Homo sapiens: one gene and its partner. The protein of the gene in region 1 interacts with the protein of each later gene in a pairwise test. Each region holds a gene or a part of one and is shown in the gene's direction. Other genes may lie near its edges.

Region 1 (3,500 bases):
TTGGAGAATTAATAGAGACCGTGCATATAAAGTAGGTACCACAGTTCCTGGCCTGGCACATGGTAAGTACTCAACCAATGGTAACCATCACCATTATTATTATTATTATTATTATTGAAGGTTTTAAAGTAGAATAGTGACCCAGTATCTTGTTTTTTGATGGCTAATTCTGGCCATATTGTGTGCAACAAATTATTGGAGGGCAAGAAGCTTAAAGCAGGTTGTCTAATTAGAAGATTAATGGAGTAGTCCAAGTGAGGGATGACCAAGGCATGAAAAACTAGATACGACACAAATTCCTACTAATATTAGAAGGTAAGTATATTGGATGAGTGATTGAGTATGGAAGTGAAATAGGTGAGCAACAGTTTTTTAGGAAACAATAATCAGAATAATTTTGCTTTAGGGCTAGATTAAATTGGGCAATTGTAGTTAGATGCAAAGATTGGAATGATATGTAAAAGACTGAGAATGGTTAAATTGAGAAGAACCTTGAAAATAAGATCCAAAGTTTTCTTTTTCTTTATTCTTTAGTCATTAAGAAACTACCCCAAGTTTTTGAGTAGGTTAATTTACTACTTTGTTCAGTCAAAGAGGAAGAAGAGATTTTTCTAGTAAATGATAAGAACTTGAACTAGTATTGCAACAGTGGAGATTTAAGAAAATTGAATTTGAAGAATCAATAGGACTTAGAGTTCAGAAAGAGAACAATGACATTAAGTGTGAGTGATAGAGAATGGTGATACCTTAACAGGTGTAAGCCAGGAAGGGGAGCCAATTTTGAGGGAAAGGTATATTTAAAAACCACCACAAATTAAAAGAGACCCAATGGATACCTTGAAATTTTGAAGACAATGCTGTTGGATTTATTGAATCTTTCCTTAAAGCATGTGGCCAATCCATACTTCTACTCCTGGCAAGCAAATGGTTATATCATTCTTCATGATGAGGCTTTTTTTTTTTTTTTTTTTTAACCCTCAAGACAGGATCTTGCTCTGTCACCCAGGCTGTAGTGCAGCGCCATGATCATAGCTCACTGCAGGTTCAAACTTCTGGGCTCAAGCGATCCCCCAACTCAGCCTCCCAAGTAGCTGGGACTACAGGCACACACCACCATGCCTGGCTAATTTTGTTTATTTTTTATGGAGACAGAGGTCTCACTATGTTGCCCAGATTGGTCTCAAATTCCTGGGCTCCAGTGACTGTCCTGCCTTGGCCTCCCAAAGTGCTGCAGTTACAGGTGTGAGCCACCACGCCCAGCCATGATCAGCCTTTTGATGTCTCCTTTTGTCAAAAGAAAATTGTCCTTGTGTTGGTATAAAGACATATGCTACAGGAGCAGCATTCTGAAGACTTCAATTTCAACTATGGCTCTACTTCTTACTAGTGAAACCCCTGGAGAAGCAACTTAATGTCTCTGAACCTGTTATCTATCATTTGTGAAATGGGAGATAAAACTTGCCTGACCCTAACCCCAGCACTTTGGGAGGTGGAGGCGGGCGGATCACTTGAGGTCATATGTTCGAGACCAGCCTGGCCAACATGGTGAAACCCCGTCTCTATTAAAAATATACTAATTAGCCGGGTGTGATGGTGGGCGCCTGTAATCCCAGCTACTCGAGAGGCTGAGGTAGGGAGAATCGCTTGAACCTGGGAGGCAGGGGTTGCCATGAGCTGAGATCTCACCATTGCACTCCAACTGGGGCAACAGAGCGAGACTCTGTGGAAAAAAAAAAAACAAAAACTTGCCTGACCAAACTCAAAGGATGTCCCTGGGAATCATGTAGGATTATGTATGTGAAAGTACTTGGTCAACTATGAATAAAACACTATAAATATATTGTCATTGCTACATAAATTAGTGTCGTTAAACAAGTATTTTGGAAACTATAATCATTAATTCTGTAAACATTTCTTAATACCTATGTTTTTCCTGTTTGTTTTTTTTTTTTTTTTTTTTGGTTTTGGTTTTTTTTTGAGATGGAGTCTCACTCTGTTGCCCTGGCTGGAGTACAGTGGCATGATCTCGGCTCACTGCAACCTCTGCCTCCCAGGTTCAAGCAACTCTCCTGCCTCAGCCTCCCAAGTAGCTGGGATTATAGGCATCTGCCACCACGCCCCGCTAATTTTTGTATTTTTAGTAGAGACGGGATTTCGCCATGTTGGCCAGGCTGTTCTCAAACTCCTGACCTCAAGCGATATACCCACCTTGACCTCCCAAAGTACTGGGATTACAGGCATGAGCCACTGCACCTGGCCAGTTCTTAAGTTTTAGATAGGTTTTGATAATGGTGGAACTTAGAATGGATAAGACTTGTGGGCCAGAAACTTGAGCCTATGATGACTAGTTTTCTTTTGAGAGAAAGTCTCACTCTCGCCCAGGCGGGAGTACAGTGGCCCAATCCCGGCTTACTACAACCTCTGCTTCCAAGGTTCAAGCAATTCTCGTGCCTCAGCCTCCCCAGTAGTTAGGATTATAGGAGCCCGACACCATGCCCAGCTAATTTTTGTATTTTTAGTACAGATGGGTTTCACCATGTTGGCCAGGCTGGTCTGAAACTCCTGACCTCAGGTAATCCACCCGCCTTGGCCTCCCAAAATGCTAGGATTACAGATTTAAGCCACGGCACCCAGCCTATGATTAGTTTAATAGATAGCAGGGACAAGGGTAAACTAGCCAGAAGGCATGAATCTCAAAGGAGGAGGCATTTTTTTTCCCTTAGTGGAGAGATGATGTTGGAAGTGCTAATGCGGAGCTAAGAGAATGCTGAAGCCTCCACTGAGATTAGTGGAATGCGGAAAAATGAGCACCATCCACTTTGAAAAAAGAATTTGATAAGTGTTGTCCTTCAGGAGACCCAAGATGTAATTAAACTAGAGAGATGAAGACAGTATTCTGTGTAGAGCTAAAGAAGAGAGAGGCCAAGCGCGGTGGCTCACGCCTGTAATCCCAGCACTTTGGGAGGCTGAGGTGGGTGGATCACCTGAGGTCAGGAGTTCAAGACCAGCCTGACCAACATGGAGAAACCCAGTCTCTACTAAAAATACAAAATTAGCCAGGCGTGGTGGTGCATGCCTGTAATCCCAGCTACTTGGGAGGCTGAGGCAGGAGAATCACTTGAACCTGGGAGGCAGACGTTGCGGTGAGCTGAGATTGCACCATCGCACGCCAGCCTGGGCAACAAGAGCAAAACTCCGTCTCAGAAGAAAAAAAAAAAAAAAAAAAAAACCAGTCTGGCCAACATAGTGAAACCCCATCTCTACTAAAACTACAAAAAATTGGCTGGGCGTGGTGGCTCACGCCTGTAATCCCAGCACTTTGGAAGGCCGAGGCAGGCGGATCACGAGGTTAAGGGTTCGAGTCCAGCCTGGCCAACATGGTGAAACCCCGTCTCTACTAAAAATACAAAGATTAGCCGGGCATGGTGGTGCACGCCTGTAATCCCAGCTGCTCAGGAGGCTGAGGCAGGAGAATCGCTTGAACCTGGGAGGCAGAGGTT
Region 2 (3,500 bases), on another chromosome or scaffold:
ACTCAGATTTTCTATTTCCTTTGAGTCAGTTTTTATAGTTTATATTCTAGGAATTTGTCATCTATTTCATCAATTTGGTAGCATACAATTATAGTATTCTCTTATAATTGTGTACTTTTTGTAAGGTTGATATTAATGTTCCCATTTTTATACATGATTTTAAAATTTGAGTCTTCTCTCTTTATTCTTAGTCTAGCCAATTTTGTGTGTGTGTGTGTGTGTGTGTGTGTGCAGGGTCTCTGTCACCCAGGCTTGAGTGCAGTGGTGTGATCATAGCTTATAGCTATGTAAATGGAAGTGCAGCCTTAAACTCCTGGGCTCAAGTGACTTTCCCTCTTGTCAGCCTCCTGAGTAGCTGGGTGCACAGGCATGCTGGCGCATGCCTGGTTAATTTCTTAAATAATTTTTGTAGAGACAGGGTCTTGCTATGTTTTCCAGGCTGGTCTCAAACTCCTGGCTTCAAGCAGTCCTCCCACTTTGGCTTCCCAAAGTGCTGGGATTATAGGTGTCAACCATTGTGCTCGGCCTCATCATTTTAAAGAATAAACTTTTGGTTTTGTTGATCATCTATTATTTTTCTAGTCTATATTTCATTTGTATTAGCTGTATTTTTTCCCCCTTGTTTCTGCTTAGTTTGTATTGAGTTTTCTTTTTATAGTTTCTTGAGGTAGAAGTTTAGGTTGCCAATTCAAGATCTTTCTTCTTTTTAAATGTAGTTACTTGTTTCTGTATCCCATAGATTTTGCTATATGTGTTTGTTTTCATTAATTTCAAATTATTTTCTAGTTTTCTTTATGAGTTCTTCTTACTTGTTGATTGTTAAATTTTCATGTATTTGTGAAATTTCCAGATTTCCTCCTGTTAGTGATTTCCCCTCCTCTTTCCTCACCTCCCTTCTCCTCTTCTCTTTTCTTTCATTTTTTGAAACAGAGTCTCACTGTATCACCCAGGCTGGAGTGCAGTGGTGTGATCATGGCTCACTGCAACTTCTGCCTTCTGGGCTCAAGCAATCCTCCCACCTCAGCCTCTCTAGTACCTTGGATTAAAGGTGCACATGCCACCACGCCCGGCTAATTTTTGTATTTTTTGGTAGAGATGGGAGTTTTGCCATGTTGCCCAGGCTGGTCTTAAACCCCTGGGCTCAAGTGATCTGCCTCCCTCGGCCTCCCAAAATGCTGGAATTATAGGCCTGAGCTGCTGTTCCTGGCCTCTGTTACTGATGTCTAATTTCCTTTCATTGTCATTGGAAAAGATACTTTGTATGAGCTTAATATTTTCAAATTTGTTGAGACTTGACTTGTAGTGTAGTATTTTAGACTTTGGTCTTTGAGAATGTTTTTATGCACTTCAGAAGAATGTGTATTCTATTTTGTGTAGTGTTCTAGAGATATCTGATAGGCCATGTTTAAGTCTTGTTCAAGTGTTCAGTTTACTTGTTCATCTCTTGTCTGGTTGTTCTATCCATTATTGAAAGTTGTACGTTGTAGTCTCCAAGCATTAATGCGGAACTCTTTTTGGTTTTTTTCCTTTCAATTCTGTCAGTTTTTGCTATATGTATTGTTCCATGCTTTTACTCTCAATCTGTGTATATTTTTGGATCTAAATTGAGTCTCTTGTAAACAGTATATAATTGGATTGTGTTTTTACATTTTATCCTGTTATTCATTGTGTCTTTCTTTTTGAGACAGGGTCTCAGTCTGTTGTCCAGGCTGGAATGCAGTGGCACGATCACAACTCACTGCAGCCTCGACCTCCTGGGCTCAAGCTATTCTCCAACCTCAGCCTCCCATGTAGCTGAGACCATAGGTGCATACCACTATGGCTGGCTAATTTTGTCATTTTTTTTGTGGAGACAGGGTCTTGCCATGTTGCCCAGGCTGGTCTTGAACTCCTGGGCTCAAGTGATCCACTCAACACAGCCTCCCAAAAGTGCTGGGATTGCAGGTGTGAACCACTGTGCCTGGCCCTGGCCTTATGTGTCTTAACTGGAAAGTTTAGCCCATTTACATTTAGTGTAATTAGTGATAAGGAAATACATTTACTATTTTATTATTTGTTTTCTCTATGTCTTATATATTTTTTGTTTGTCAATTCCTCTGATGCTGTTCTTTGTGTCAGATATTTTCTAGTGTACCATTTTGATCCCCTTCTCATATATACATATAATTCTCACATTATATAAATAAATATAACATATCTAAATATATTAATATATTTAGATATATATTTATATTAATATATATTTAGATATATTATATTTAGATATATATTAATAAAAATTTAATATATTTAGATATATATTATATTTATATTAATATATTTAGATATATATTATATTTATATTAATATATTTAGATATATATTATATTTATATTAATATAATATATTTAGATATGTTATATTTATGTAATGTGAGAATATGTATATATGAGAATTATATATATAAATAAAATATAGTAAATAATTATGTGTGTATTTCTTAGTATTTACCCTGGGGGTTATAATTAACACTATATATTATAACAATTTAGTTTGAATTAATACCAGTTTAGTTTCAGTGGTATATAAAAACTTTGCTCCTGTATTTGTTGTTATTGTCACAAGTTACAGCTTTATGAATTTTGTGCCAATCAATATAGATTCATAATTACTGTTTTATGTAGTCTTTTAAATCATATAGCAAAGAGGAGGCATTGCAAACCAAAGACACAGTAATATGCACTTTTATATTTACCTATGTAAATACCAACAATTACTGGTATCCTTTAGTTCATATGTGATTTTAAGCCACTGTCTGATCCCCTTACATTTCAGCCTGATGGACTCTTTATAGTATTTCTTTTAGGGGAAGTTTACCAGTGACAAACTTCCTCAGTTTTTGTTTATCTGGAAATATCTTAATTTTGCCTTTATTTTTAAAGGGTTGTTTTACCAGATAGAGGATTCTTGGTTGACAGTTTCCTTTCAGCATTTTGAATATGTTATCCCACTGCCTTCTGGTCTCCATGGTTTCCAGTGAAAAATCAGTTGTTGATTGTATTGAGTGTCCTTTTCACGAGTTGCATTTTTCTTGCTGCTTTCAGGGTTCTCTCGGTTTTTGTCTTTCAACAATTTGATTATGATGCATCTTGATATGAATCCTTTTGCATTTATCCTGCTTGGAATTCATTGAGTTTATGAGCTAGATTCATGCCTTTCATCAGATTTGGAAAGTTTTAGCCATTATTTCTTCAAATATTTAGGCCTCTTTCACTCTCTTTTCCTTCTGTGCCTCCAATTATATGTATATTAGTATGTTTGGTGGGGTTCCACATGTATGTTCATTTTCCTTCAGTCCACAGACTCAGTAATTTTAATTTACCTATCTTTAGGTTTGCTGATTCTTTCTTCTTGTAGAGGTTCAAGGGATTTTGATGTTTCTCAAGAAAGAGATATGATTATAAGAAGTGGTAACACACAACAAGCTTCATTTGGTGGCACTTGGACAGGATTATATGAGA

Evidence for each region.
Region 2: the proteins of PPP3CB (region 1) and FBXL17 interact in a two-hybrid assay, tested with the Homo sapiens proteins (one large-scale study listed by BioGRID).

The regions. Positions count from the first base shown.
Region 1 is NC_000010.11:73,486,025-73,489,524, reverse strand, and holds part of PPP3CB (serine/threonine-protein phosphatase 2B catalytic subunit beta isoform), read left to right. Parts: intron 1-3,500. UniProt on the Homo sapiens protein: Calcium-dependent, calmodulin-stimulated protein phosphatase which plays an essential role in the transduction of intracellular Ca(2+)-mediated signals.
Region 2 is NC_000005.10:108,372,099-108,375,598, reverse strand, and holds part of FBXL17 (F-box/LRR-repeat protein 17), read left to right. Parts: intron 1-3,500. UniProt on the Homo sapiens protein: Substrate-recognition component of the SCF(FBXL17) E3 ubiquitin ligase complex, a key component of a quality control pathway required to ensure functional dimerization of BTB domain-containing proteins (dimerization quality control, DQC).